2 separate regions of the Homo sapiens genome follow, and region 1 is linked to region 2. The links come from fine-mapping of genetic effects on gene expression. A gene starts in region 2. The other region holds a variant in brackets. All regions are shown on one strand. Distances are from middle to middle. Region 1 overlaps WDR93 (WD repeat domain 93). Region 2 holds the start of PEX11A (peroxisomal biogenesis factor 11 alpha).

The links.
Region 1: its variant is fine-mapped to the expression of PEX11A in Th17 cells (Schmiedel 2018, PIP 0.91).

The regions. Positions count from the first base shown.
Region 1 is chr15:89,708,930-89,725,548 of GRCh38, reverse strand. WDR93 (WD repeat domain 93) reads right to left here. Exons shown (of 17, transcript NM_020212.2): 5 at 13,445-13,523; 6 at 10,454-10,569; 7 at 8,600-8,638; 8 at 3,410-3,494. It also overlaps the pseudogene RNU6-132P. Among named protein-coding and RNA genes, the nearest start is that of WDR93, 26 kb to the right of the region's middle. The variant G/AAG (reference allele first, on the strand shown) is at 8,504.
Region 2 is chr15:89,682,604-89,699,222 of GRCh38, reverse strand. PEX11A (peroxisomal biogenesis factor 11 alpha) reads left to right here and starts at 8,469. Exons shown (of 3, transcript NM_003847.3): 1 at 8,469-8,646; 2 at 12,677-12,792; 3 at 15,275-16,619. The coding sequence starts at 8,591. The coding sequence ends at 15,846. It overlaps WDR93 (WD repeat domain 93), which reads right to left and starts at 8,412. Exons shown (of 17, transcript NM_020212.2): 1 at 8,366-8,412. It also overlaps the pseudogene RPL36AP43. RefSeq lists an enhancer at 8,545-8,634.

The DNA.
Region 1 (16,619 bases), 26 kb before region 2:
AAGAAATAGAACATTGCCATCTCACTAGAAGCTTCCCAGGGGCCCCTTTCTAATCACAATTCTCTGGGAAGAGTGGCAACCACTCTCCTGACCTTTATGGTAGCCACTTCATTGCATTTATTTATGCTTTTATCACCTAAACATGCGTCCTCAACACCATAGTTTCATTTTGCCTGATTCTAAACTGTACATAAGGGGAACCATGCAGTATTAACTCTATGGCTGTCCTCTTTTGCTCAATATTGTTCATGAGATTTATCCATTTTGCTGTGTGTAGCTGCAGTTTGTTCATTTTTCATTGCTGTATAGTATCCCACTGAATAAATATAGTACAATTTATCTGTTCTACTACTGATGAAAATTTAGTTGCTTTGTGTTTGGGGCTATTAAAAATCATGTCACTATCACCATTCATGCACATGTTTCCTGGAACACACTTGCTTGCAAATCTATGGGTACATTCCTAGAAGTAGGGTGACTAACTCAAAATGGCTTGCTTAGGAGTTTCCTAGTTTTAGCACTGAAAAATCTCACATCCCAGGAAACCCCTCAGTCAGGCAAACTGGTATGGTTGGTCACCCTATCACCTAGCAGTGTAAATACTGTGTCATAGGACACAAATTATTGTCAGCTTTACTAGATAATAGCAAACACATTTTCCAAAGTGGTTGTACCAGTTTTCATTGCTAAATGCAATGTATGGGAGTACTGATTGTTCCACATCTTCACCATCACTTGGTGTGGTCAGTCTTTTTAATTTTACCCATCCTAGTGAATGTGTTACGCTACTTCACTGTGATTTTAATTTGCACTTCCCTGCAGACTAATGATGGTGAGCACCTTTTCATGTTTATTGGTCATTTAAATAATCTTTTTTTTGTGAATAGCCTGTGCAATACTCTTGCATGTTTTGTACTGGATTCTCCCTCTTTTTCTTAAGAATCTGTAGTAATTCTTCATATATTCTGGACATGAACCATTAGTGGGTTTTATGTGTTTTGCAAATAACTTCTACCTCTATGTGGCCTGATCTTTCATCCTCTTAATGATGTCTTTGAATGATCTGAAATTCCTAATTTTAATGTAGTCAAATTTATTCAATTTTTAAAAATTGTAAGTACTTTTTGTGTCTTATTTGAAAAGTCTTTCCCTACCCAGAGGTGATAAAGTTATTGTTTATATTATTTTCTTTTTCTTTTTTTTGAGACAGGTTCTCGCTCGCTGTGTCGCCCAGGCAGGAGTGCAATGGTGCGATTTCAGCTCACTGCAACTTCTGCCTCCCAGGTTCAAGCAATTCTCCCGCTTTAACCTCCCAAGTAGCTGGGACTACAGGCACAGGCCACCATGCCTAGCTAATTTTTGTATTTTTTTTTGTGGAGATGGGGTTTCTCCATGTTGCCCAGGATGGTCTCGAACTCCTGAGCTCACAAGCAATCTGCCTGCCTCAGCCTCCCAAAGTGCTGGAACTACAGGTGCACGCCATCACGCCCAGCTATTTTTTTTTGGTATTTCTAGTACAGACGGGGTTTCGCCATGTTGGCCAGGCTGGTCTTGAACTCCTAGCTTCAAGTGATCCACTTGCCTCGACCTCCCAAAGTGCTGGGATTACAGACATAAGCCACTGCACCGGGCCTGAAGAGTATATTTATTTTCTAAAAGCTTTACTGCTTTGCCTTTCATATATTTACTTCTACAGTTCATCTGGAATTTAGTTTTGTGTACGACATGAGGCAGGGGTTAAGTTTTATTTTTGTCTCCACATAAACAGCCACCACCACTTATTGAAATGGCCACCCTTTCTCCAGAGCTCCATAGCGCTGCCTCTGTAATGCATCAAGTGTCCATTTATGCCTGGGTCTGTTTTGGTCTCTGTATCCTGCTTCATTCACCTATTTTTCCTCTATTTTTCTATCTGCTATTTCTATCTATCTATATTTCTATATTTCATCTATATTTCTATTATTCACTTATCTATTTTTTATCTTAATAACTGCAGCTTTATAATAAATATTGATAGAGCAAGTCTGACCACCACATTCTTTTACAAGAGAAAATTGTCTATTCTTCGCCTTTGGCATTTCCCTTTTCGGGGGGTTGTTCTTGATTTTGAACCAGGGTCTTGTTCTGTCACCAGGCTGGAGTGTAGTGGTGTGATCATAGCTCACTACAGCCTCAACTTCCTAGGCTCAAGTGATCCTCCTCCTTTGGCCTCTCAAAGTGCTAGGGTTATAGGCTTAAGCCACCACACTTGGCCTCTCTTTTGTTTTTTTAATGGTTGCAAAGTATTCTTTTGTATGAGTGTACCAGATTTATTTATTTATTTATTTATTTATTTATTTATTTATTTATGACGCGGTTTCACTCCCATCTCCCAGACTGGAGTGCAATGGCACAATCTCAGCTCACTGCAACCTCTGCTTCCTGGGCTCAAGCGATTCTACTGCCTTAGCCTCCCAAGTAGTCAGGACCACAGGTGCATGCCACTCTGCCTAATTTTTGTATTTTTTGTGGAGGTGGGGTTTTGCCATGTTCCCCAAGCTGGTCTTGAACTCCTGAGCTCAAGCAATCTGCCCACCTTGGCCTCCCAAAGTGCTAGGATTATAGGCACGAGCCGCCGCACACGGCCCAGATTTTATTTAACCAATTATTCACCTCTGTACATAATGCTACCGTAAACATTTTTCTGGTTTTTTTTTTTAATCGTAACTACTAGTCCACCAGGGGTGAACATTCTTATAGATATGTCTTTGTGATCATGTGTGAATGCTGAGAGGATATCCTCTGTATTTGCCGCCTACAATAGCTAGCCTCTCTGCTCCTCTTGACCAAGTCCCTTTCTTTGAAACTGTGCCCAAATGTCCCTTACTCCCTAGCAAGTCAGTCGCTTCTTACCCTGAGTTTTCACAGCCCTTGATGGTCCCCATTGCTGTACTTATCACATCCTACTATGGTGGTTTCTTGTCATTCTCCCTTAGTAGACTATCAACTTCTAGAGTGCAGGAGAGGAGAGGTGTTTTACTCATCTTTGTGCTTGGTGCATTATGGGCATTCAGCAAATAATAATGAATAAATTAACACAAGAATGTAGGAATGAATGTATTACAACTAGCAGTCAAATGAATCAGCACAGAAATGTAGGAATAAATGAACTCAACCTGGCAATTCAGAAAAGATATCTTTTTCTCCTGACCTTCCAATTCTGTTAGTTAACTGTATGTAATACAAATGCATTACTTACATTTTTTGTTTTAATGTCTCAGAGCTTATGGGTTTAAAAAAAATTTCCTCTTCATAACTATGTTTGTAATTTTGATATCGTTGCTAATAAGTTGAAAAGATAAGACATGGGGAAAGGAAGAAAGAACAGATAAATCAATGGCAAAAGGAGAGAGATTTGAATCACACTTACCTGTAACAGGCTTAGGTGGTTTGATCTTCATTATGTAAACTGGAAGACTCAATTTAATGTCTCCTTTAAAACTAACATTTGCATCCTAAAACAAGGAAAAGGCATAGTTAATAAGCCAAGAGAAGAGAGGAAATAGAATAATTAAAAATACTAATTTTAAAAGAAGGTGGAAAAGAAGGGGAAAAAGAAAAATAAGAGGACAAATAGAAAGTAAATAGCAAGATTGTAAAAGTAAATAGCAAGACTGTAGATTTAAACCCAAACATATAAATAATCACATTAAATGTATATGGTCTAAATAACCCCAGTGAAAAGGCAGAGATTGTCAGACTCTATAAAAAGGCTAGACCCTTACTGGGCATGGTGACACACTTGTAGTCCCAGCTACTCTGGAGGCTGAAGTGGGAAGAACGCTTGAGGCCAGGAGTTTGAGGTGGCAATGTGCTATGACTGTGCCTGTGAATAGCCACTGCATTCCAGCCTGGGCAACATAGCGAGAGCCCATCTTTGAAACAGTTTTTTTAGAAAGGGCAAGACCCAACTATATGAGGTCAAAAAGAAACTTTGTGTGTGCGTGTGTGTGTGAGAGACAGGATTTTGCTCTGTCACCCAGGCTGCAGTGTAGTGGAACAATCACAGCTCACTGCAGGAGCGACCTCCTGAGCTTAAGCAATCCTCCCACCTCAGCCTTCTGAATAGCTGGGATCTCACAGGTGTGCACTACCACACCTGGCTAATTTAGTTTTGCAGAGATGAGGTCTCGCCATGCTGCTCAGGATGATCTTGAACTCCTGGGCTCCTGTGATCCTCCTGCTTCTGCCTCCCAAAGTAATGGGATTACAGGTGTGAGCCACCACATGTGGCCAAGAAACTCATTTTATGAAACACTATCTGAAACCATAGGGAAAAAGAAGAAACTCGTTATATTAAATATAATGACACAAACATGTTAAGAATAAAAGTACAGAAAAAGATATATCTTGCTAAAATGAATCAAAAGAAAGCTTGGGTGGCCATATTAGTATTTGACATAGAAGAATTCTGAACAGAGAATATTATCAGGAATCAAAGGGTCAGTGAATAATGACAAAACAATCAATTCATCTGAAGACAAAACATTCCAAATTGTTAAGCATCTAATTACAAAGCTTCAAAATACACGAAGCAAAAATTCGTAAGAGTGAAAGAAGAAAAAGATAAATCTACAATCTTAGAGACTCCTTTTTCAATAAGTACAGAATAAGTAAACAGAAAATCAGTAAGAATATAGTAAGGATATAAAAGGAAAAACAGAAAGGAGAAAAACTTGAATAGCCTGACCAATAACAGCTTTATTGGTCTTCAAACATCCTTTTCAAGTACATATAAACACTTACCAATATAATCCACATTGTGGGAATAAAACAAATCTAAATAAACTTAAAATGATTCAAATATATAAAGTATGTTTTCTGATCGCAATGGATTTTCTGATCACAACGGATTTTATGAGAAGCCCATAAAAAAAGCCAGCTGTAACATTTCCAATATTTGGACACTAAATAACATACTTCTAAAAATCTACTAGTCGGCTGGGTGCAGTGGCTCACGCCTATAATTCCAGCACTTTGGGAGGTCGAGGCGGGCGAATCACGAGGTCAGGAGTTCAAGACCAGCCTGACCAATATGGTGAAACCCCATCTCTACTAAAAATACAAAAATTAGCTGGGCATGGTGACATGTGCCTGTAATCCCAGCTACTTGGGAGGCTGAGGCAGGAGAATTGCTTGAACCCGGGAGGCAGAGGTTGCAGTGAGCCAAGATTGCACCACTGCACTCCAGTCTGAGCAACAGAATGAGACTCTCTCTCAAAAATAAAAAAATAAAAACCTACTAGTCAAAGAAGAAATACAAAAGCAAATTATAAAGTACTTTGAAATGAATGAAAATAAAAAAATCAAATTTTAAAGCAGTACTTAGATACAAGTGTATAGCATTAAATGCCTATATCAGAAAAGACGATCTCAATGATTTGAGCTTCTACCTTAAGAAACTAGAAGAGGAGCTGGGCCCAGTGCTCAGGCCTATAATCCCAACACTTTGGGAGGCTGAGGCAGGTGGGATCACGAGGTCAGGAGTTCAAGACCAGCCTGGCCAAGATGGTGAGACCCCGTCTCTACTAAAAATACAAAAATTAGCCAGGCGTGGTGGCAGGCACCTGTAATCCCAGCTACTCGGGAGGCTGAGGCAGAGAATTGCTTGAACCTGGGAGACGGAGGTTGCAGTGAGCCAAGATCATGCCAGTGCACTCCAGCCTGGGTGACAGAGCGAGATTCCATCTCAAAAAAAAAAGAAAAAAAGAAGAAAAAGAAAGAAAGAAATTAGAAGAGGAAACTAAACCCAAAGTGAGCAGAACAAAGGAAATAATAAAAACAAACTGGAAATCAGTGAGATAGAAAACAGAAAAACAATAGGGAAAAATATATGAAACTAAAATATTGTTCTTTTGAGAAGATGAATAAAATTGACAAACCTTTAGCCAAACTGATTAAGAAAAAAAGAGAGAAGACACAAATTACCAATATCAGGAATGAGAGGGATGACATCACAATAGATTTTAAAGACAATGAAGGGATAATAATGGAATGTTATGAACCACTTTAAGCCAATAAATTTGACAACTTAGACAAAATGGACAAATTACTCGAAAGACACAAGGTACAAAAGCTTGCTCAAGAAGAAATAGATAACCTGAATAGTGCTTTATCTATTAAAGGAGTTGAATTTGTAGTTCCACAAAGAAAGCTCCAGGACTAGATGGACACATTAGTAAAGTCTACCTAACATTTTAAGAAGAAATAATGCCCAGCCTGAGCAACATGTTTTTCTATAAAAATTTTTAAAAATTAGACAAGCATAGCAGCACACAACTGTAGTCTTAGCTATTTGGGAAGCTGAGGTGAGAGGACTGCTTGAGCCCAGGAGGTTGAGGCTGCAGTGAGCCATGATCATGCCATTACATTCCAGCCTGAGTGACAGAGTGAGCCCCTGTTTCAAAATGAAAAAAGAAAAAGAAAAAAATGTGCAAACAAATTGATGAGTAAAAAAATGCAAGTTTATAAGAAAATATATACAGTATGATGCCACTTATGTAGAAAAAAAATTCCATGAAACAAAACTGTATTTTTCAAAATAAACGTAAGATGTAAATACACACTAAAGATCTAGAAAACACACATCAACTGGGGCTGGGCGCGGTGGCTCATGCCTGTAATCCCAGCACTTTGGGAGGCCAAAGCGGGTGGATGACCTGAGGTCAGGCGTTCGAGACTAGCCTGGCCAACATAGTGAAACCCTGTCTCTACTAAAAATACAAAACAAACAAACAAACAAAAAAACATGTCAAGCTAATAATGGTGATTACCTCTGGAGAGGGCTGTTTATCTGAATTCCTTGACTTTTCCAAGAGTGATATATTCATATATTATTTGTACAATGTGAAATATAACTATTTTTATTTTTATTATTTTTTGTGAGACAGGGTCTTGCTCTGTCACTCAGGCTAGAGTACAGTGGTGTAATCTCGACTCACTGCAGCCTCCACTCCAGGGCTCAAGCCATCCACCCACCTCAGTCTTTTGAGTAGCTGGGACCACAGCCACATGCCACTACACCTGGCTAATTTTTTTTTTTTTTTAGACAGCTGTCTCCCAGGCTGGAGTGCAGTGGTGTGATCTCGGCTCACTGCAACCTCCGCCTCCCGGGTTCAAGCGAGTCTCCTGCCTCAGCCTCCTGAGTAGCTGAGATTACAGGCACACGCCACCACATCCGGCTAATTTTTGTATTTTTAGTAGAGATGGGGTTTCACCATGTTGGTCAGGCTGGTCTCAAACTCCTGACCTCGTGATCCACCTGTCTCGGCCTCCCAAAGTGTTGGGATTACAGGCGTGAGCCACTGCACCCGGCCATTTTTTGTATTTTTTGTAGAGGCAAGGTTTTGCTGTGTTGCCCAGGCTGGTCTCAAATTCCTGAGCTCAAGAGATCCTCCTGCCTTAGGCTCCCAAAGTGTTGGGATTACAGACATGAGCCACCCCACCTGGCCTAATGTAACTTTGAAAGGGAAAAAAGAAGGGGCTCTAGCGAGATACTTCCACTTCAGAAGTTCACCACTACTCTACTGACACGCCTGAGTCCTCCAAGAGCCATGCTTTCTGAAGACATGGTATGTTCCTGGTCTCAGAGGAAGAGCCAGGAAGCTCCAGGGAAACTGCTCTGTTCTCTAAGGTATTCCAAAACAAACACAAAACCCCCAAGTTACTCGGCTTGGTGAATTGGGCTGTTATTTTGGTAGAGGCAAATCCAGGATTCATAGGACCCTCTTTTAAGAAAAAGAAGACAGAACTATGAACACAAAATGCCCATGGCCACTGTAATTCCATCTAATATGGAGGAAATTGTGACAGAGGAAAGCTAGAGTGAAGAGGTAGTGGAATTAAGTGATTATGGTTACAATATGTTACCTTTGCTAATTTTACAAAAATATATAACCATATGAACACATTGCTAGGGCCCCTTCCAGGGGCCCAAGTGAGGGGCCCTGAAATTTAAGCTCCCTTAACTTCAGGTAAACCCACGTCTGGCCAAATGACTTGGGTCAACTGTCCTCAGGGACGGGAGGTCATCTTCAATGGATATGAGGCACAAGATTAAGTCACTGAGAATTGAAAATAGTGCCCAGGTGGAACATTTCATTAGCATATTTGACATTTAGGGTAAATTTCAAGTAAAAATCAAAATCTTGGGCCCAGTGTGGTGACTCACGCCTATAATCCCAGCACTTTGGGAGGCCAAGGCAGGCAGATCACCTGAGGTCGGGAGTTGAAGACCAGCCTGACCAACATGGAGAAAACCCTGTCTCTACTAAAAATACAATATTAGCCGGGCGTGGTAGTGCATGCCTATAATCCTAGTTACTCAGGAGGCTGAGGCAGGAGAATCACTTGAACCTGGGGGGCAGAAGTTGCGATGAGCCAAGATCGCTCCATTGCACTCCAGCCTGAGCAACAAGAGCAACAAGAATGAAACTCTGTCTCAAAAAAAAAAAAAAAAAAAAAA[G/AAG]AAAGAAAAAGAAAAGAAAAGAAAAATAATAATTTTTAAAAAATCTCTAAAATACAAACTTAAGTCTCTCTGGAGATTTTCTTTAAAGTTTCTTACCATTTCTAAAGGATCTGCAGAAATGGGACCAAGGGAGTTCTGAGAAGAAAAATGAGAAATTAATTCACAATAGGTTTGATGTATGTTTACCACCCCCTTTAATCTTCTGGCATGCTCTCTCTTCCCCTCAATTACTCTTGTGAGTGAATTCATGCAACAGATGTGGAGGGCCAGTATTTGTGTGGGCCTCTGGCCTGCAGAACTTCAACACACGATCCCTATTTTTCAGGATCTTAAAAGGTAGGTGGGGAAACAGGAAATAGTTAATAACAAGAGGAAATCTGAATGAATAGAGTTGAGGAGATCAGTCAGAACACCATTACAAGAATCCAAATTGAGGCAAATATTTCTGATTGGCAAAACATATTGGTGATGTTGAGAATTACATTTAAGTAACTCTAAATATAATTCGTAGTAAAAGAACTACCACTGTAACTGGCATTCATTGGCTGCTTCTCAGTGTATGAAAAAGAAGTGAATTATGGTGAGAAACCACCCCATTCAAGGTGCTTTTCCTATTTGGATAACAAATTAGTCCAAACAAAAATATATCTTTTTGAGTACCAAGTATGATACTATGGAATTTGTTGATAAAAAGCAGAAGGTATGATCTTAACAATCTAGAAATTTATTATCCATTGAAGACAAGAGGATTTTCATGTATAACAGGATAACTACAAACCTAGGCAGTATGTGAGAAGTGTCAAAAAATACATACAAATAATAACATTCTGTAATAGCTTAGAGGAGGAATATCTCTGGGCTAGTAACTTTCCCAGGGACATAGGACTACACTCCATTATGAAGATATTCACTGGCCATAAAGGCATTTATTCAAAGCCACTTGAGCTCAGCAGTGAATGTAACTCTCAATCTTGGTCTCCTATATTAATAATTTCACTAATTTATTTAGCACCTAATACAATGTATTTTAAAGGGATGCTCAGTTAATATTAATATATTAATGTTGGTGGTTTAAAAGTAAAAATAATAAGCATACACTGTATAAATAAGCAAATTAAGTCTTAATATTTACTGAGCAACTATATCTTAAAAACATAGCACAGGCCGGGTGCGATGGCTCATGCCTGTAATCCCAGCACTTTGGGAGGCCGAGGCGGGCACATCACGAGGTCAGGAGATTGAGACCATCCTGGCTAACACAGTGAAACCCCGTCTCTACTAAAAATACAAAAAAATTAGCCTGGCATGGCAGCGTGCACCTGTAGTCCCAGCTACTCAGGAGGCTGAGGCAAGAGAATTGCTTGAACCCGGGAGGCAGAGGTTGCAGTGAGCAGAGATCGCACCACTGCATTCCAGCCTGGGCAACAGAGCGAGACTCAAAAAACAAAAACAAAAACAAAAAAACAGCACAAGGCCCAGTCATCATATATAAATAAACTGAAATGGTAGAGTTTCTACTTTCTAAGGATAATAGAAAATATATATATATTTCTGTATATTGAGAACAACCTCTTTATACCATAGTCTGGAAAAATTTAATGGAATTTGAGGCATGAAAAGATTATTTCAGCCAGGAGGGAAAAAAAGATTACCAGTGAAGCAGGAGTCAGGACAAAAGACCCTCCTTCCAGAGAAATGCCTGGGAGTGGTCTCAGTGGAGAGGCAACTCCCAGACTAGAGATACTGCGATTCCCACTACTGAAGACACCTCTACTTTTTAATATCTTATTTTAACCAAAGGAAATTGACTTGGGAGACAGGGGCCAATATTCCTGTTGTCCTCTCTTATAGCCCAGAGGCCTCATTCACCATAAGTTTCCAAGGACTTGGGCTAGATGTGGGTCAGGGGTAGGGAGAAACATATCAGCTGAAAGCAGAGATATTTCCTACCAGTTGCGGCTGTCTGACTTTTTTCTTTGGATTTGAAGTGAGTTGGGGGTGCTCTAGTTTCTTGAGCCAAGTCTCCTTGGGCAATTTATACACATCCAGCCAAATATCTCCGGCTCCTGCATTGGGAAACCAGAGAACCATTGAGCAACTGTAAGAGAGCCACAAGTTTCCTCTGAGAAATGGCCTGTCTTCTTCTTAGAACTGCTGGCAAAGAGACCAGCCACCTCCATACCAGGCAACTTTGACATACTGAAGGAGAAGTAGTTCTGCAATGGTTATTGCAAGTCCTCATGCCCCACATAACTTTCCCATGGAGAGTTATCCCCTCAACCCACCACCACCTATCTAAGAGAAACAGGGGCTTCTCACACTAACAGCACTCATGCAACAGCTTTTTAACCAAATTGTTCTGCCCAGCCCCCACATTTTCTTTGTTGCAAATGGTAAATTCCATTGACATTAAAAAAAATATGGGGCCGGGCATGGCGGCTCACGCCTGTAATCTCAGCACTTTGTGGGGCTGAGGTGGGTGGAACACCTGCAGTCAGGAGTTCTCAGCCTGGCCAACATGGTGAAACCCCATTTCTACTAAAAATACAAAAATTAGCCGGGCATGGTGATGTGTACACCTGTAATCCCAGCTACTCGGGAGGCTGAGGTGGGAGAATCACTTGAACCCAGTGGGTGGAGGTTGCAGTGAGCCGAGATCAGGCCGTTACACTCCAGCCTGGGCAACAGAGTGAAACTCCATCTCAAAAAAAAAAAGAAATGCTTCATGAATTTGTGTGTCATCCTTGCAGAGGGGCCATGCTAATCGTCTCTGTATCGTTCCAGTTTTAGTATATGTGCTGCTGAAGTGATCACATCCACTGACATTTTGCCTTCAGTTTTACCTGTCTGGGGAGGAGGGCAGCAAATACAGAATCAGCAACTGAGAGAAGTGTGTCTGAGGAAGGGTTAGAATTGGGAAAGATGTACCTAAAGAATTCTTCTGACCAATATTTGAGGAGATAACAACCCATGGGTTGGCTGTGGGACTTTATCTTGTCAAAGAAACATGCTCAGCTTCTATAGCAAATATATGTTAACCTAGGAAAGGTTGTTCTCCCATGGTATGGGATCCTGGCTAAATTTTTTTCTTAAAAAGTAATCTTCTGGTCACCTTAATTTCACACTTCTGGCCTCTAGGACTCTGAGGGAATAAATATCTATTGTTTTAAGCTGCCCAGTTTGTGGTACTTTGTTATGACAGGCTCAGGAAACCAATACAGATGGTGCACAAGTTTCCTTGAATACACAAAGCATTATACAATGCATATCCTTCGCCAGGCGTGGTGGCTCATGCCTGTAATCCTAGCACTTTCAGAGGCCGAGGCGGGCGGATCACCTGAGCTCAGGAGTTCGAGACCAGCCTGGCCAACATGGTGAAACCCCGTCTCTACTAAAAATATAAAAATTAGCCGGGCATGCTTGTAGGTACCTGTAATCCCAGCTACTTGGCAGGCTGAGGTGGGAGAATCGCTTGAACCTGGGAAGCAGAGGTTACAGTGAGCCGAGATCATGCCACTGCACTCCAGCCTGGGTGACAGAGCAAGACTCCTTCTCAAAAAAAAAACAAAATAAAATGCATATGTTCCTCAAATACCTGACATTGGAGGGGGCTTGGACAAGAGTATAAAATAGAGGCCAATATACCATGTATCTAAATATTTAAAGGTTAAAAATCAAGGCAACAAGCATTTGAATAAAATATGTTCTATTGTCCCAGTGATAACTGCAGCAGGCAAGATCCAATGATGAGTGCTGAGATTGGTGGGTAAAACATTAAAGAGAAACAGCACATCAGCATCCTCTCAAAGTATCTCCCTCAAGGTGTTTATTAATTACTGTGGTGGTTTTAACACATGTCCAAAAATTCTTTGATTCTCTTACCTCCAGGAGACGATACTTTTTTTTTTTTTTTTTTTTTTTAAGATGGAGTTTCGCTCTTTGTTGCCCAGGCTGGAGTGCAATGGCACGATCTCGGCTCACTGCAACTCCGCCTCCCAGGTTCAAGCGATTTTCCTGTCTCAGCCTCCCCAGTATCTGGGATTACAGGTGCCCACCACCACGTCTGGCTAATTGTTGTATTTTTAGTAGAGACGGGTTTCACCATGTTGGCCAGGCTGGTCTTGAACTCCTGACCTCAGGTGATCCGCCTGCCTTGGCCTCCCAAAGTGCTGGAATTACAGGCGTGAGCCACCGCGCCTGGCCAGGAGGTGGTACTTCTATCATTTTCCCTTGAGTGTGGTCTGGATGTAGTGACTTGCTCCTTACAGAGGATGGGAAGGGGAAAACAGTAGCTCTACAGTGGAGAAACCTGGCGGACACCACTTGAAGTGATCAAGGTTAGTATTAGCAGTAGTGAGTCATGCTGCTATCATGTACCCCTTGATATGATGCAATGAGAAAAGCTTGTCACCTCTGTTGTATCTTCCCCCAAATCCTTAACCCCAGTTGAATTATGAGAAAAATATCAGACAAGCTGAAATTGAGGGACATTCTACAAAATACCTGACTGGTACTCTTTAAGGCCTTGAAAAATGAGGAAAGGCCAAGAAACCATCCTAGGTAGGAGGAGACTAAGGAGACACAATGACTAAATATAATATGGTATCCCAGATTGAACTTTGGAGCAAAAAAAAAAAAAAAAAAAAAAAGATTAGTGGAAAAACTAGTGAAATCCGAAAAAAAAAATCTGTAGTTAAGAGTTAGTTAATAGTACTGTACCAATGTCATTTGCTTAGTTTTGACAAATGTGGTGTGGCCATGTTGAACATTAATATTAGGGAAGCTGGGTGAAGGGCATAAGGGAACTCTGTAATTTCTTTGCAACTCTTCTTTGAATTGAAAATAATTTCTAAATAAAAGGTTTGGAGGGACAAAAGCAATCATTTGGAAGATTGGAAGAGACTGAAAATTTGAACCTTAACAGTCTTTGGTTAATCTTGCCTTGTAGGAGGAAGGCTGCAAAGTCCCCTCCTTGAGAGATCTCCATCTTTATACAGGTAGTTTGCTTGCTGGTATCATCCTGAAAACAAAAGAGATGTTGATAGAGTAGGCATAGCCTGCTGACAGAGAATGTATTTCAGGACCTTCTGTGGTCTGCACCCAGGAACAGAGATCCTTTTAAACCTTGGGACATGAAAAGATGCTTCAAACTGCTTCATACTTCCCATTTTTGTACAAGAATTGGACAAGATGATATGTAAAGAAGTAGAACTCGCTTTTCTATGTAAGGTTTTTGAACTTATTTCCTGGTTTCTTAAATGCTCCTGGTGACATCTGGCATACTATTGGATCTCCTCGTCAGGTGTGCAAACCCTAAAGCCTATGCTGGCATCCAATTATTCAACTAAATGGAAATAAATTCTACATGACACTGAAAACTCTGGTAGTTGCTGGACAAAAGGCTCTATTTAGACTATGGTAGAGACTGAATGTAACCTTAGTATGAAACCTGCTCAAATTGTGGATAAGGTCAGAGGGGCTCAATGTGAATGGTTATGCTATCTTTTTTTTTTTTTTTTTGAGACTCGCTAATTTTTAAAAATTTTAAGAGAGACGGAATCTCACTTTGTTGCCCAGGCTGGTCTTGAACTCCTGGCTTGCAAGTGATCTTCCCAAGATGGCCTCTCAAAGTGCTAGGATTATAGGGGCATGAGCCACCATGCCCGGCCTAATGTATCTCCTAAGTCTCTTAATTTATATTAGCTCCCTCATTTGTTTTTCTGTTTGCCATTTATTTGTTGAAGAAACCGTGTCATTTGTCCTATGGAATTTTTCGCATTGTGAACTGGATTGATTGCATCTCCATGGTTCCTGTATTTCCTGTAAACTGATAATCAGATCTACAGCTTTGATTAGGTTTAGGTTCAATGTTTTGGCAAGAACACTCCACAGGTGCACTGTGTCCTTCCTACTGCATCATATCAGGAGGCTCATAATAGCTGGTTGTCTCTCTTTTAGTAATGTTAAGGTTGACAGTTGAGAACAGTTATCATCCTGACTCCTTTATTACAAACTTCCCCATCAGCCATTGGTGGTTATTGCCTAGACCATTCTTTGTAATAGGCAACAAAAGTAGGATACCTCAGTTCTATCATTCCTTCTGCATTTATTAGAATTCTTCTATAAGGAAGATCTTTCCATCATCAACCATTTTGTTGCCTTGAAATTGGTTGCCCATATGAAAAAGTCAGAATAAAAGCTTGATTCTTTCCCTTATCAGTTTTCAGAATACTGAGTTTCTGAAACTTCCCTCACAACTTCCAAAGTTGTGACAATAAAGTATTTAAAATATATTATCATGAATTAATGGATTTTAAATATTTTTATGTGTTTTAATCCACCAACAGTACTTTTTTTGTAACATCCCTGATAATTTGAATATCATAGTTATGCTGGTCTCATAAAATGAGTTGCGGGACATTCCCAGTATTTTTTTTTTCTTAGGAGAGTTTATTTAAAGATAAAATTTAAATATAGGTAAAGGCACAGGTATTAAATGCATAACTTGATGAGTTTTGACAAACTTATACGTCCCTGTAACTAACACCCTGTCAAGGTATAGGACGTTACCATTATCCTAGAAAGTTACCGTATGCCTGTTTGAGCCAACTACACTTCCATATGCAACCAATGTTCTGCTTTCCATCGCTAACACAGATAAATTTCGCCTGTTCTTAAGTTTCATATAATTTCATAATTAGAACCTACTCTTTTGTGTCTGGCTTCTGTCATTCAACTTGATGTTTTTGAGTTTCATCTGCTGCGTTGTAATCATCAGTTGTTTATTATTTATTATTGCCGATTAGTGTTCCATTGACTTAGTCTACCACAAATTTTTATTTGTTCTCTGATTATGTTTTTTTGTTTTCGTTTTTGTTTTTGTTTTGAGACGGAGTCTCACTCTGTCGTCCAAGCTGGAGTGCAGTGGTGCGATCTCAGCTCACTGCAATCTCCGCCTCCTGGGTTCAAGCAATTCTCCTGCCTCAGCCTCCCAAGTAGCTGGGACTACAGGCGCGTGCCAGCACACCCGGCTAATTTTTTGTATTTTTAGTAGAGACGGGGTTTCACCGTGTTAGCCAGGATGGTCTTGTTCTACTGACCTCGTGATCCGCCCGCCTCAGCCTCCCACAGTACTGGGATTACAGGCAGGAGCCACTGTACCCGGCCTTGATTATTTTTTTTTTTATTACAAATACAGCTGCTATGAACATCTTGTACAAATCTTTTTGTGAACAAATGTTTTCATTTCTTTTGGGTAAATACCTAAAAATGGGCTTGATGTATCATAGGTTTAACTTTGTAAGAAACTACCTCACCTGTAATCTCAGCACTTTGGGAGGCCAAGGTGGGAAGACTGCTTGGGTCCAGGAGTTCAAGACCAGTCTGGGCAACATGGCGAAACACTGTCTCCTTTTGTAAATGTCAGTTTAAGTCTTTTGCCTATTTTTTATTGGGTTGTCTTTTTATTACTGATTTGGAGTTCTTTATATATTCTGGATACAAATACTTTGAAGGATATATAAATATATATAAAGTATATATATATAAAACAGGTATTTTCTCCCAGTCTTTGGCTTGTTTTTACATTTTCTTATTATATTTATTATTATTTAAGGCCTTTATTAGCAGTTTGCAGTTTGGCTTTTTAAAAACCAGATGCTGCACTGATAATGCAATTAGTTCTAGTTATCTGGTTAACAGGCAAAAAATAAATAAATAAATCACCCCCACCCTGCCCAGCCTCAGGATCCAAGGCATTCTCAGCTGGTGGATCCCTTGCTTTTGTCTCTGCCACAGTGGGGTTTAGGATTTTCTGGACATCTACATCTGTAACTGAAGTTGCAGTTGTTGACCTTGTGTCTCATCTTGATTTTCCTTTTCCTCTTCATTGCTGACCTCTCTGTCTTTGGTGAGAAGGGGCCCTGGAGAATTGTGGTGTAGGATTGTGTCACTGGTCCACCTTGTTCTCCTGCACCCTGGTTATCAGTACCTCCATCACTTCTCCCTGCACCGGACGGCTGCAATAGTGTGGGCACCTGGCCGTCACAGCCACAATAGTGGTGCACCACAATAATGTGGGTACCCACAGGGTCGCCACAGGCTAGAAGCCCATGCC
Region 2 (16,619 bases):
AAGAATTCATCATCAACAAGCTAGCATTAAAATAAATAACGTAAAAGAAAGGCTTTTAGGCTGAAGGAAAAGGATCAGGGTATAGTAGCTCCCAGGACTTTGGGAGGCTGAGGTGGGAGGATCACTTGAGCCCTAAAGTTCAAGACCATCCTGAGCAACAAAAGGAGACCTTTATTCTATAAAAAAAATTTTTTTTAATTAGCCAGGCGTGGTGGCATGTGCTTGGAGGATCACTTGAGCCCGAGAGGTCAAGGCTGCAGTGAGCCATGATGGTGTCACTGCACTCCAGCCTGGGTGACAGATATCCTGTTTCAAACTAATTAATTAAATAAATAAAATAAAATGATATCAGGTGGAAATAGAAATTTACATAAAGAAGTGAAAAACACTGGATGCATTAGGCAAATTAAAATATTTTTCTTATTATTTAAATCTCTTTAAAAGATATTTAAAATGCTTAAACAAAAAAATAAAAATGTAGTGTAGGATTAATAACATATGTAAAGAAAAATGTATGACAATAATAGTACAAGCACTAGGAGGGGAGAAATGGAAGTATATCAATATCACTTGAAGGTAGGCTATGCTAGGTTAAAGATGCATACTCTAAACCCTAAATTAACCACTAAAGAAATAAAACAAAGAGTTCCAGCCAACAAAAGCAATAAAACACATGAAAATACTCAATTTAAATACTTAATTTAAAAAAGCAAAAAAGAGGAAAAAGGGAACAAGGAACAGACGGGACAAACAATGTATAGCAAAATCTAACCATATCAATAATCACATCAAATGTAAACACTCCAGTCAAATGATAGAAGTTGTCAGAATAGATAAGACTCAATATATGCTGTGCACAAAAACCCCACTTAAATATTAAGACACAAATATGCCAAAACTAAAAGGGTGAACAAAGGTATACTATGCTAACACTAATCAGAAGAAAGCTGGAGTGACTACATTAATATCAGACACAGTATATTTCAGAGCAAAGAATATTACCTGCGATAAAGAAGTTCATTTAATAATGATAAAAGTGGGCCGGGTGCAGTGGTTCATGCCTATAATCCCAGCACTTTGGGAGGCTGAGACGGGCGGATCACGAGGTCAGAAGATCGAGACCATCCTGGCTAACACGGTGAGACCCTGTCCCTACTAAAATTACAAAAAAAAAAATCAGCCGGGCGTGGTGGTAGGCGCCTGTAGTCCCAGCTACTTGGGAGGCTGAGGCAGGAGAATGGCGTGAACCCAGGAGGCGGAGCTTGCAGTGAGCCGAGATTGCACCACTGCACTCCAGCCTGGGCGACAGAGAGAGACTCCGTCTCAAAAAAAAAAAAAAAAAAATTATAAAAGTGTCAATTGATCAAGTGGGTATAAAAGTCCTAAATGTTTATGCACCTAATAACAGAGCTTCAAAATACACAAAGTAAAAATGGATAGAATTTAATGAGAAACAGGAAGATCCACAATTATAGTCAGAGATTTCAATACCCTCTTCTCAATAAATTATAGAACACATAAACAGAAAAATCTGTGAGGATACAGAAAACTTCAATAACACTATTAAGTAATTTTTTCCAATTGACAGTTACAGAACGCTCTACCCAAAACAGCAGATTGCAAATTATTTTTAAGTGCACATGAAACATTTACCAAGACAAACCATATTCCAGGCCATAAACCAACTCTTACTAAGTTTGAAAGAACTTAAATAATACAAAGTATGTTCTCTGACTGCAACAGAATTATTTTAGAAATCAATAACAGAAATTTCGATGGTTCAATGTATACAAGACCTCAAAATATTAGGAAACTAACACGCTTCTTAATAACCCATGGATCACTTTTAATAGTTTTAATGCTCCTAGGGTAGATACTCAGGAATGGGATTGCTGGGTCATATGGTAAATATATGTTTAAAATATTTTACATACATATTAGAATGGCTAAAATAAAAAAAATAGTGCCAGGTGTGGCAGCTCATGCCTGTAATCCAAGCACTTTGGGAGGCCAAGGTGGGAAGATTGCTTGAGGCCAGGAGTCTGACACCAGTCTAAGCAACACAGTGAGACCCCATCTCTACAAGGAATTTTAAAAAACCACTGGGGTGGGGGTGGCGTGCACCTCAGTCCCAGGTGAGGTAGGAGGATTGCTTGAGCCAGGGAGGTCAAGGCTGTAGTGAGCTGTGATCATGCCACTGCACTACAGCCTGAGTAACAGAGTGAGACTTTGTCTCTAAAAAACAAACAAACAAACAAACAAACTGACAATACTAAGCACTGGTGAAGATGCAGAGCAACTGGACTCCCATACATTGCTGTTGAAAATGCTGAACAGGACAGCCACTCTGAGAAAGGATTTGACAGTGTCTTATAAAGTTAAACATATATTTACCATATGACCCAGCAATCCCATTCCTGAGTATCTACCCTAGGAGTATTAAAACTAACCTATCATCCGAGCACTTTGGGAGGCCAAGGCAGGCAGATTGCTTGAGCCCCGGAGTTCAAGACCAACCTGGGCAAAATGGCAAAACCTCATCTATACAAAAAATACAAAAATTAGCTGGGTGTGGTGATGTGCACCTGTAGTCCTAGCTACTTGGGAGGCTGAGGTGGGAGGATTGCTTTAGCCAGGGAGGTCAAGGCTGCAGTGAGCCATGATCACACCACTGTACTCCAGCCTACGTGACAGAGTGAGGCCCTGTCTCAAACAAAAACAACCACCACCACCACCACCACCACCAATGTAAGTTCACACAAAAACCTCTACACAAATGTTTATGACAGCTCTACTTATAATTGTCAAAAATGGGAAACAATCCAAATGTCCTTCAACAGGTTTATCAATGGATAAACAAACTGTGGTATATCCATATAATAGAATACTAATCAGTAATAAAAAGCAAAAAACTACTGATCCACACAACAACATGGATGAATCTCAAAGACATTATGATGAGTGAAAGAAAACAGTCTCAAAATTTATATGCAGTCCAATTCCATTTATACAGCATTCTCAAAAATGCAAACTGAGTAATGGGGAACAGATCAGTGTTTGTCAAGAGTTATAAGCAGGGAAGGGTGTTATTCAAAAAGGACAGCATGGCTGGGCATGGTGGCTCATGTCTGTAATCTCAGCACTTTGGGGGGCCAAGGCGGGTGAATCACTTGAGGTCAGGAGTTCAAGACCAGCCTGGGCAACATGGCAAAACCCCACCTCTACTAAAAATACAAAAATAAGCTGGGTGTGGTGGTGTGTGCCTGTAATTCCAGCTACTCAGGAGGCTGAGGACCAATAATCGCTTGAATCTGGGAGGCAAAGGTTGCAGTGAGCTGAGATTGTGCCATTGCACTCCAGCCTGGGTGACGGAGTGAGGCTCTGTCTCAAAAAAAAAAAAAAAAAAAAAGGACAGCATGAGGGAGTTTTTTGGAGTGATGGAACTACTTCATCAGTGGAAAGAAAAACATAAAGCTGTCTTTATCTCCAGATGATATGCTTATATAGGAAATCTGAGGAAATCTACAAAAACATTTTCTAGAACTAATAAATGAGGAGAGCAAGGTGGTAAGATACAAGTTCAATATACAAAAACTGATTGTATTTCTATGTACTGGCAATAACAAACCAAACATTGAAATAAAAATACCATTTACAACAGTATCAAAAACATGAACTACTTAGGGATAAATCTGACAAAAGATATATAAAACCTGTATCCTGGGCTAGGCAAGGTGGCTTGCACCTGTAATTCTAGCAGCTCAGCAGGCTGAGGTGAGAGGATTGCTTTGAGTCCAGGAGTTCAAGGTTGCAGTGAGCTATGATCATGTTGCTGCACTCCAGTTTGGGCAATACAGCGAAACTCCCTCTCTAAAAAACACCCACCCACATACTGAAAACTATAAAATATTGCTGACAGAAATTAAAGAAGACCTAAATAAATGGAGAGTGTGATACCTTATTTATGAGTTGGAAGACTCAATTTTGTTAAAATGTCAATTCTTTTCAAATTCATGTACAAATTCAACACAATCCCTATGATAATCCCAGGTGGCTTTTTTTTTTCCAGAAATTAAGAAGCTAACTTTACAACTCATAATTGGAGGACTAACACTACTTAATTTCAAGACTTATCACAAAGTTACAATATTCAAGACAGTGTGGTATTGGTATCAAAATAAACAAACAGATCAATGAAATCAAATAGGGAGTCCTAAATTAGATGCAAACATATATGGAGAACTTATTTTTGACACAAGCACAAAGACAATTCGGTGGAAAAAGGATATTCTTTTCAGCAAATAATGCTGGAGCAATTAGATATCTATATAGGAAAAAAATGAATGCCGATCCATACCTTGCACCATATGCAAAAATTAACTCAAAGTAAAATCATACACCTAAATGTAAAACTGAAAACTATAAAACTTCTAGAAGAAAACTTTGGCAATCTTCTCTTAGACAAAGATTTCCTAGATATGACATTAAAGTATAACCTAAAAAGAACAAACTGGTCATTTAAACCTTTTCAAAAATAAACTTGTGTTTCTTCAAAACACACTGTTAAGAGAATAAAAGGTAATCCTCAGATGGGGAGAAAATATATGTGCAAGTCACTTATCTGATAAAGTACTTTTGTCCAGAGTATTTTTAAAACTCTCAAAACTCAGTAATAAAAGAAGTAACCCGGCCGGGTGCAGTGGCTCACGCCTGTAATCCCAGCACTTTGGGAGGCCAAGGCGGGCAGATCATGAGGTCAGGAGAGCGAGACCATCCTGGGTAACATGGTGAAACCCCATGTCTACTAAAAAATACAAAAAATTAGCTGGGCATGGCGGTGGGCACCTGTAGTCCCAGCTACTCGGGGGGCTGAGGCAGGAGAATGGTGTGAAACCAGTGAGCCGAGATCGTGCCACTGCACTCCAGCCTGGGCGACAGAGCGAGACTCCATCTCAAAAAAAAAAAAAAAAAAAAGAAATAACCCAACAATTTTTAAATATGTGCAAAAAATTTGTACAGATACTTAACCAAAGAAGATATACAGATGGCAGATAGACTCATAAAAAGATGTTCAGCATCATTAGTCATTTGTGAAATGCAAATTAAAATCATGAGATACCACTACACGTATATTAAAATGCCTAAAGTTAAAAAGATAGACCATGAAAGTGTTGTTGAAGATGTACAATAAGAATGCTCATACACACTATTGGGAAACCAAAATAGTACAACTGGTTTGGAAAACAGTTTGGCAATTTCTTAAAACGCTAATGTGGAGGCCAAAGCAACTCCATCTTAGATGCTAATCCTCCATGTTAACTTCTGATTATCCCCAGTTCCAGAAAAACCTCTAAGATTTCCATTTGACTCATTCCTTGTGTAAGAGCACCACTTACTGTAAATATTGCCCTTAGGTCAAAACAACCTTGATGTTATCATTCTTGCCATAAATTCTGTCCTTAAGCAATTATCTTACACATTCCTTCTGAAGCACCTTTCTCTATAGCACAGAAACCCTGGGTCTGGTGGATAATGGCAGGGATCCACCATCTTGTCTTGCTCCTGAGACATGGCTTCTGTTTGTTTGTTTAAATTGTATTTATTTATTAAATGTTTGTTTCTGAGAAACTGGGTATGTCAGCCTCTTGCTTTGGCCTCTCAGCTTTCTCAGACTTTTAGGGGTAGGTTTGCATAGGCCTGTCCCCTGCAGGACAGTTAAACACATTATCTACCATCATATCCAGTCATTCCACTCTTAGGAGTGGTAGAAGGGAACTGAAAACATATGTCCATACAAAGACTTGTACACGAACAGTCATTACAACTTTATTTGTAGGAGCCCCAAAGTGGAAACAACCCAATGTCCACCAACAGGCAAACAGATAAGCTCTCACGCATTGTCAGTGGTAATACAAAATAGGATAGCCACTTTGGAAAACAGTTTGGCAGTTTCTTACAAAGTTAAACATACCATATGTTTCAGCAATCACATTCCTGCATATTACAGTAGGAAAATTAAAACTTATGTTTCACATCAAAATCTGTACTTAAATATTTATAGCAGCTTTATTTATAATGGCTTCAAATTAGAGACAACACAAATGTACTTCAGTGGGTGAATGGATAATGAATTATAATACATTCACATTGTGGAATAAAAAATTACAAACTACTGATGTGCACAACATAGATAATCTCAAATGCATTATGCTAAGTAAAATAAATCAGAAAAGAAAAGAAAACGCTACATACTATATGATTCAATTTATATGATATTGTGAAAAAGGCAGAATTGTAGGTATAAAAAACAGATGAGGCCAGGCGTGGTGGCTCACACCTGTAATCCCAGAACTTTGGGAGCTCGAGGTAGGTGGATCACCTGAGGTCAGGAGTTCCAGACCAGCCTGACCAGCATGGTGAAACACCATCTCTACTAAAAATATAAAAAATCAGCCATGCGTGGTGGCGCATGCCTGTAATCCCAGCTCAGGAGGCTGAAGCAGGAGAATCGCTTGAACCCGGGAGACGAAGGGTGCAGTGAGCTGACATTGCGCCATTGCACTCCAGCCTGGGCAATAAGAGCAAAACTCTGTCTCAAAAACAAAAACAAAAAACAGATGATACACATCTGTGTTTAGAAGCACCCTGTGCTCACCTCTATCATCTAACATATCTCTGTGTTGTACTTATCAGTTTACTGTGTTCCTTGTTAACCTATTACCCTACGACTAGAGTTTAGCACAGTGGTTGGTATATGGCCAGGACTCAATAAATTCTCATTGCTTGCAGAATTGCCCTGACCTGGGCCACGTATTTAGAGAAAACTTCTGGCTCTCTTCGAGGCTCTTTCCTCTACAAAAAATGAGTAACCCATGGGGCCAAGGAGATATGCTCACCCAAAGCCTAGTTTCCCTCTTCTGGAGTCTAGACCATGTTCAGGGTACCAATACCCCTGGAATTTACTGCCCAAATGACACCATGGCCTGCATGAGCCCTTCTCAGCTTTCACCTGAGGGCAGACCCAGCTGCTAATGTGAGCACTCCTCGATCTGAAAAGGTGGCAAAGGCATGGCTGCTTGCAGAGGTACGGGCAGACGTTGGATGTGGCTTGGAGTATCAGGATGGTATACAAGGCTCCTGGCAGGGAATGCAGGTGGGCACCAGAAACCAGAAAAGAAAGGGAAGTGGGAAAAGACTGGGAGCCATTTCTCCCCACACTGCCATATTCCAGCTGTGTTTCCAGGTATTCTAAGGAGTCTAGGGATTCTGAAGATGAACCTGGCCTTCTACATCATTATGAGGGTCTATTTGTCAATGTAGGAAAACAGACTATATTTTACTTTACAATTTGTTGCTTGATTTATAACTAAAATATTTAAACATACGGTGTGCTGGACTCCATTTGTACTCTTACCCAGGGCCTGCAAATGTTAGGAGCTGGCCTGACCAAGGGAATAAAGATTACGAAAATGTTCACCTTATTTTATTTTATTTTATTTTTTTGAGACAGCGTCTCGCTCTGTCGCCCAGGCTGGAAAGCAGTGGCACAATCTCGGCTCACTGCCACCTCCGCCTCCTGGGTTCCAGCGATTCTCCTGCCTCAGCCTCCCGAGTAGCTGGGATTACAGGCGCCCACCACCACGCCCGGCTACTTTTTTTGTATTTTTAGTAGAGACGGGGTTTCACCCTGTTGGCCAGGCTGGTCTCCAACTCCTGATCGCAGGTGATCCGCCCACCTCGGCTCCCAAAGTGTTGGGATTACAGGCGTAAGCCACAGCACCGGCCGACCTTATTTTGTGGTTATAGAGGGTACATTTTATAAAATTACTGCCACGGAGTGGGTAAGGCTCCTTTTCTTCAAGCCGCACAGAACGAATGTTCAGCGGTGCAATTTCATTGCAATCTATTTTTGCTTCACTTTGCTCATAATGACTCTTTTAGGATTTCCTCAGGTAACAATCTTCTTTCAATGTTCAATAATCCAAGCAGAACATTTTCTCACTTCATCCGCCTCCCATGCTAGGTTCACACTGTGAAATTGGCTTATCTCTGACCTAACCACTTCCTTCACCAGACATAGAGCTGGTGTAGCTCAAGGGAAAGAGGCACGGCGCTGGGAAATGATTAGGCCCCACCGTCCCAAGCAAGAGCTCAGGGGAGTTCTGAGGCTGGAGAGACCATTCGGGATATCACCCCGGGTTCCTGAGAACCTGAGATCTGCGGGGAGGCGTCAGGCATCCGGAAACGCCCGAGTCTGGGGAGACGGACCCCCTCAGACTTTCCTCTAGGAGACTCTACAGGTAAAGGGGAGTCCTGGGACTCGAGGGGAGCCCCGGCATCCAAAGGTAAGATCAGTTTTGCTCACCTGGCCGGGCGGCGTTGCGTCGCCTTGGTAACCACAACTTCCGGCTTGAACCGGAAGTCCGCGAAGTTGCTCTACAGAAAGTGTGCCCGCCCCCTCTGGGGCGGAGAGACTCAGCCCCTCCCCCTCAGCGGATAACCTGGGACTGACCGTTCCCTGGGGATCCGACGGGCCCCAGAGGACCCACGCCTGAGCCCCGTGCGACTCGTGGCCTTTGGGCTAGAAGCCATGGACGCCTTCACCCGCTTCACCAACCAGACCCAGGGCCGGGACCGACTCTTCAGGTGAGTCAGGTGCCAGCGGCCTCCGCCCCTTTCTCGCCCTAACTCGGCTCCCGTGCCTATTCCCCTGCACCCGGGAAAAAGGAGGTGATAGCCTAGTAGATGGAAGCAGGAAGGACGTTGCCAGCTCCTACGGAGGGAGTTTAGTATCCGAGCCCCTCCTTACCCTAAATTCAACGTGAGTGGGCCCAACGCACCCGCGTCCCGTCCTAGCCCCGTGCACGAAAGCCCCAGTGCCTGGCACCCTAGCCGCCTCGAGACCGCCGACGACGGGACACCGGCTGACAGATCCTCCTCCCCTCCTAACTTTGCTCTCCGGGCACAGAAAGATTGGTTCTCTCCACTCAACATTCTTCCGAGGGATCTCCTTTAAAGAGAAACTTTGGATTAGTATTTGTGGCTAGGGAAGCAAACCACTTGGTGTGACTTCAAATATCTCTCTTTTTTTTTTCTTTTGAGACGGAGTCTCGCTCTGTCGCCCAGGCAGTGGCGCGGTCTCGGCCCACTGCAACCTCTGCCTCCCGGGTTCAAGCGATTCTCCTGCCTCAGCCTCCTGAGTAGCTGGGATTACAGGCGTGCACTACCACGCCCGGCTACTTTTTGTATTTTTAGTAGAGACGGGGGTTTCGCCATGTTGGCCAGGCTGGTCTCGAACTCCTGACCTCAGGTGATCTGTCCACCTCGGCTTCCCAAAGTGCTGGGATTACAGGTGCGAGCCACCGCGCCCGGTCTCAAATACCTCTTGAAATGTTTGAGGAGAGACAGAAGTTCTCTTCCATTATTACCCAGGCTGTATCATTGAGATACTGCATGTGGAATAGTTTTGTAAATTGTAAAACAAAATATAGCGGGGATGAGACCACACCAACTGGATTGGGGGGAAATACAGTGGGGAGAAGCTCAGAAAGAACTAACTGCACCTCTAAGGTTCATGCTGTGCTACTGAAAATATTAAACAGAGATTGTGTCTCTTTTTCTTTTGGTTCCATAAGAAACGAAAAGAACTGAGAGATTGTATCTTTAATACGAATACAGTACTAGTTCATGATGTTTTAGAGATTTGGTTGATTCTTGCTTAATGAAAAAATATTTACAGTTGCAGTTTTATTTAACAGCTCTGCATTCTCTTCTGGGTGTGCAAGTGCTGATACAAACAGATCAATTAGAATGGCCCCAATAATGAGGCTTTTGGAAGCCATCTTTATGACAGCTATTGTTCCCAGTGTTTTGCAACTATGAACTTATATAACCCTCATCACAACCCTATGAGGTAGATACTCTAAATATTTTACCCACTTCAGATGGAGAAACTGAAGCAGAAAGAGGTTAATAGGTACTACAATGGCAGAACTGAGGGATTCACATCCACGCAAATGACTCCAGTGCCCACTTAACTACCAAGCTATACTGGCTTTCTCATTAGTTTGATAGGTTTTTTAAATGGTTACTTTATATACAAGCTTCATTAAATAGAAATTTCATTAAATAGAAACCTGTAATTCCAGTGTACCTAGAATGTACCCTGCAGGGTTTATCAAGGAAGTTGGTTAAAAAAATAATCATTTAGGCCGGGTGCAGTGGCTTACACCTGTAATCCCAGCACTTTGGGAGGCTGAGGTGGGCGGATCACAAAGTCAGGAGATCGAGACCATCCTGGCTAACATGGTGAAACCCTGTCTCTACTAAAAATACAAAAATTAGCTGGGCGTTGTGGTGGGCGCCTGCAGTCCCAGCTACTCAGGAGGCTGAGGCAGGAGAATGGCATGAGCCCAGGAGGCAAAGCTTGCAGTGAGCCAAGATCACGCCACTGCACTCCAGCCTGGGCAACAGAGCGAGACTCCTTCTAAAAAAAAAATAAAAACATTAAAAATAATAATCATCATCATTTAGGCCGGGTTCAGTGACTCACACCTGTAGTCCCAGCACTTTGGGAGGCTGAGGTGGGCAGATCATGAGGTCAGGAGTTCGGGACCAGCCTGGCCAACATGGTGAAACCCCATCTCTACTAAATATGCAAAAATTAGCTGGGCGTGATGGCACATGCCTGTAATCCCAGCTACTCAGGAGGCTGAGGCAGGAGAATCGCTTGAATCCGGGAGGCGGAGTTTGCAGAGAGCCAAGAACGCACCACTACCCTCCAGCCTGGGCAACAGAGCGAGACTCTGTCTCGAAAAATAATAATAATAATAATTTAAGATATGTTTATTCCAAAAGATCTGAGATCTCTAGCATTCATTTCCCAACCTCCTTGATGATCTGTATAACCTTTATGACCACACTGGCATTCATAAAATAATACCTTGCTTTCTGTGCCAATAATGCTCATGCAAACACGGTGAACATTCCTAAAACCTGTCAGACTGTAAGAAGTGTGGCAAGCACCAACCCCACAAAGTGACATAGTACAAGAAGAGCAAGGATTCTCTGTATGCCCAGGGAAAGCAGCATTATGACAGGAAGCAGAGTGGCTGTGGTGGGCAGACTAAGCCGATTTTCCAGAAAAAGTCTAAAACTACCAAGAAGTTTGTGCTAAAGCTTGAGTGTGTTGAGCCCAGTGAAGATCTAAGAGAATCCTGGCTATTAAAAGATGCCAGCATTTTGAACTGGGAGGAGATAAGAAGAGAAAGGGCCAAGTGATCCAGTTCTAAGTATCATCTTTTGTTTTATTATGAAGACAATAAAATCGAGTTTATGTTCACTTCAAAAATAAATAAATAAAAGTAATGTCTTACTGTTGGCCTGATCCTTATTATTAGACCAAAGCTCAGAAAGGCAGAATCATTGACATGACCAGTCCTGTAACCAGGAAGGACACTTAAAAAAGAGAAAGCGATTGTTTATGATTCCAGTCTTCTCTTTTTATTTCATTCCTAGTAACAAGTTCACTATTTTAGAAAATGAAAATGTACCGCATTTTTATTGAGAATAATATTTATAGCATAAAGGGATTCAAATGCACTTACAAGACAGTAGGAACCAGGCACCTACTTTATTAGTAGATTGCCAAATGGATTTGGATGTGTGACTATGTGATGTAAAATTTCTCCTACATTTATATTAGTAAGTCATTGTTATTTGTAAGCATGACAATAATCACTTTATTAAATATATAGTATTATTAAGCAGGATTCTGCCTGTATTTTATGTAAAATACGAATAAGTTTTGAAAGACAACTATGAAAACATATTTATACTAATTTATGTACTGATGTGTATTTGGTCCTTTCGTTTATAAAAAATTAAACAATCTTTAAACTGTGGACTTTTCATTTGGTTCTGGTTTGAGTTTGTGTCCTGTCACATAGATGGTAGGTTAAGTACATGGTAGAAAAGTTCATTTTAGAAATCTGAAAATCAGGCCAGGCACAGTAGCTTATGCCTGCAATCCCAGCACTTTGGGAGGTTGAGTAGGGCAGATCACGAGGTCAGGAGATCGAGACCAGCCATGACCAAAATGGCACAACCCCGTGTCTATTAAAAATACAAAAATTAGCTGGGCGTGGTGGCACACACCTGTAATCCCAGCTACTCGGGAGGCTGAGACAGGAGAATCGCTTGAACCAGGGAGGCAGAGGTTGCAGTGGAGCCAAGATCACACCACAGCACTCCAGCCTGGCGAAAGAGCGAGACTCGATCAAAAACAAACAAAAAAAAAACAAAGAAAGAAATCTACACTGGGGAAGAGAAGGAATATGGATCTTTGTAGACTTAACATGAGGGAGATTTTGTACAGTTTCTCACTTTGACTATATCCATTTCTCTGTGCCAGCAAAAGGCCTTTTGGAGGCACATTGGCTGCATTATTGCAGAATTTGTTTTCATTACCTTTGTGTTAAATTTCCATGACATGTTCTACCCTTTGGCTCTCCTGTAGAATGACTGTTGCAGAATTTTGCTTTTGTAAGAGTTGCTACATGAGAAATGGTCTTGGAAATGTTGTCTGGAGGCATGTGTTTCTCTTTCCCTTACTTCCTGAATTAAGTTTTATTTGGTTTGTAAATCATTCTTCTCAATTTTTTTTTTTCCATTTCAGAGCCACTCAGTACACATGCATGTTGCTTAGATATTTGTTAGAGCCCAAAGCTGGCAAAGAGAAGGTGGTAATGAAGCTCAAGAAACTGGAGTCCAGTGTGAGCACTGGTCGTAAATGTAAGTACCCTGTTTCTTGAGGGACAGTGACTCCTGGTTTAGAATCCTCAGCCTCAGACCCTGTAATTCACGGAGTAATTTCTAGGTCATTAATTTCTAGTCAATCAAGTTTATTGGTGAAATTGACCAGTAAGGCTGTCCTCATGGCACAACAGGTTTGAATGTGTTGCTGCAGACCATTCATAAACACCCTCTTATGTTCACATCTGGTGCTACACCTTATCTTTCTGCTGAATCATAACCAGTGAGACAGACAACGTGTTAGTTCACCTTTAGTTCTTAGAATCATAGTATGTTTTAGCAGTCTCTGACATGAGCTTCTGCTCCTGTGAGCCCCTTTATTCTAAACAAGAGTGGAATAGTTATATCCTAGACCACCTGCCTTTTTCCTTTATTGAGGAGTGCTAGAGGATATATAGGTGGATACATTTTTGTAGACCATGTTTGAGGTAGGTTTCATGCCAAAGGTAAAAAGTGAAATCAATATTTTGTGTTTATTAAATTTACTTTAATAATATGTCATACTGGGAAATCCAGTACTTTTCATAGCAATTGCCTTTCTGAGTCTTTGTTGTTTGATGAAAACCAGATGTTGCTATAGTAGGTTAGCAGAGGCATTAGAATGGAATGTAGAGCATCACATATTGATCAGTTGGTTTTGAGCACCTATGTTATATAGGTACATTCCTGAGCCTTATGGGAGAAGTAAGGTGCTTTAAATAATGATATATAAGATTTAGTGCCAAACTTGTTGGCTGAGGTAGAGGAAAAGAAAGGTGTTTTAGAGGAGGTGGAACTTGAGGTGAGGCTAGAGAGAAGGAAGAAGAGAGTTTCGAAGGGCAGTTTTCTCTAATAAAGGCTCAGAACTGAGTAAACCATTGTATGGGAGGATCATTGTCAAACTACAAAACTAGTTTGACAGATTTAAATTGTCAAGCAGAGGGATGGGAAGGGTAGGGCGAGCTTTTCTGGATGGCACTGAAGGCCAAGATTAGAAATTCTATTTAGATTATTTAGAATGTTGGAGCTGAAAGGTCCTTTAGAGGTCACTAGTCTGTAAGTCCAGAAGGGGCTTATCCAGGGTCATTCAGCCAGTTAGTGCAAGGGCCAGAACTGGAACCCAGAATCTATATACTAAAATAGTCATTACATATACTATTTTACTATTTTATGTTATTTTTGATAACATAATACAAAACATTCTTTTTTTTTTTTTTTTTTTTTTTTGAGATGGAGTCTCACTCTGTTGCCCAGGCTGGAGTGCAGTGGCATGATCTTGGCTCACTGCAACCTCCGCTTCCCAGGTTCAAGCAATTCTCCCACTTCAGTCTCCCTAGTAGCTGGGACTACAGGCATGCGCCAATATGCCTGGCTAATGTTTGTTTTTATTTTTTATTTTTTTTAGTAGAGACGGGGTTTCACCACGTTGGCCAGGCTGGTCTCAAACTCCTAACCTCAGGTGATCCGTGCACCTTGGCCTCCCAAAGTGCTGGGATTACAGGCGTAAGCCACCGCGCCCAGCCCCTTCTGAGATTATAAGTTTTCTGAGAGTAGCTACTTCTGAGCACCTCCTGAGTCTAAGGTATGATCCTTCAAGGAAAAGTACTTCTTTTGTATCCTCCGTGACATTTAGTACTATAACTCTTTCTCAGAAGGTGTTCAGTAAGTACCTATTGATTGATGCATCCCTGATTAATTGAATTACGTGCTCACATAAGGACGTGCCATTGCAATGGTTGATTTAATTCAACTAGGAGCTCTGTGACAATATTATTAATTGTTCTATCCATTAAATTCTACCATTTCTACTTTATCTTCTTGACAATAGGTAGCCAAAAGGGGTTTGGACCAGAGAAATGGCAAAATGATAATAGTGTTTTTTAAAAAGACAGTCTTTTGTCTGGAAAATAAATAAAATGCAAGGCATCAGACTCTCCAAGAGAGTATTGCATCTGGAGTTCATGTTATCATAGTACCTTCCTTCTAAAGAAGTGTAGCTGGTAAATAATCAAATGTAACAGTCCACACTCATGATTGACCTTGCCTGGAGTATGCCGTCAGTCAACATTAAGGTGTTCATTACAATGGAGGAGGTAAATTTAAAGAGTCACTGTATTTTTTGCCTTCCAAGATCACTTTAGGTGTCCTTAATGTACTGTAAAATCTTTCTCTTTTTCTGAACAAAGGCTGAGCCTTTAATGACCATCAGTTGTTAAAAAGACCAGTGCTAAGCTGGGCACACTGGCTCGTGCCTATAATCCCAGCTACTCGGGAGGCTGAGGTGGGAGGATTGCTTGAGCCCAGGAGACTGAGGCTGCTGTGAGCTGTGATGGTGCCGCTGCACTCCAGCCGGTGTGACAGAGCAAGACCCTGTCTCAACAAAAAACAACAAAAAGCTGGCTCCTCACCCTGATACAGGGATTCTATCTTCCTGTTGTGTACTAATGAAATAACTGTTCACTATTGTGGGTTCTACTTGCAGGGTTCAGACTAGGCAATGTGGTACATGCTATACAGGCAACTGAGCAGAGCATTCATGCCACTGACCTGGTACCTCGCTTATGCTTAACATTAGCCAACCTGAACCGTGTGATTTATTTCATCTGTGACACCATCCTCTGGGTGAGGAGCGTAGGTCTCACCTCTGGCATCAACAAAGAGAAATGGCGAACGAGGGCTGCTCACCACTACTACTATTCTCTTCTGCTGAGCCTGGTCAGGGATCTGTATGAAATCTCCCTGCAGATGAAACGAGTTACATGTGACAGGGCAAAGAAAGAGAAATCAGCATCCCAGGATCCTCTTTGGTTCAGCGTGGCTGAGGAGGAAACAGAATGGCTCCAATCCTTTCTACTTCTTTTATTCCGATCTCTGAAGCAGCATCCTCCCTTGCTCCTGGACACAGTGAAGAACCTTTGTGATATCCTGAACCCTTTGGACCAGCTGGGGATCTATAAATCCAATCCTGGCATCATTGGACTTGGAGGTCTTGTGTCCTCTATAGCAGGCATGATCACTGTGGCATATCCTCAGATGAAGCTGAAGACCCGTTAGGGTGTTTTTAGGCTTGGAACTAGTACCTACTTTAAAAGATGGCCTCTTGGTGGGACAGACATTTGTATAAGTCACAGGCCATGTCATACTGTGCTTAAGTTCTTGTTCATGTGAGCATTTAACAACCTGTGATGTGGGCAGAGATGAGGCCAAGAACGGAGAAGGGAGGAGCATGAAGAGTTGTATGTTTTTGGAGTGCTGGAGTGACTTGTGAATTTCTGAATATTTTCCCTTCATCTAACATTGATTGAACATCTCTTATGTGCATAGTGGGAGCTTAGTATTTGCTGAATGAATAAAAATTGAAAGGAAAAAATTTAAAAAGACCCAATCGCACTGATCATTGAACACCAGTATACAATAACTTTAGGGTCATATGGATCATTGGTTTCACGATTACAGTAGGTCTGGTGCATGGCACTCTCAGATCTAGTAGAGGCTCTGATGTCAGTAGCAGGATGGAGGAGAGCTGGGCTTACAGCCTCTCAACTTGTTGGCCCTTATACCATCACTGCACTCATGTCCTTGCTCTGTGCAGAAGTAGAATCAGAAAAGCATCAGGCACCTTCATGGTATAAATTGTGTCTATGGGTGCAGTGAATAAGCAAAAATCAGAAGCAGACCGGAGGGACTTATAAAAATAGGTACAGGGTCACAATGGGTGCCTATATGTAGCCTGTGACAGATAAGAAGCTGACAGTGAGACAAACAAAAAACTGAGGCTAGAGCCTCATTCCTCTGACTCCTAATCCAGTGTTCTCTCCATGCTCTCC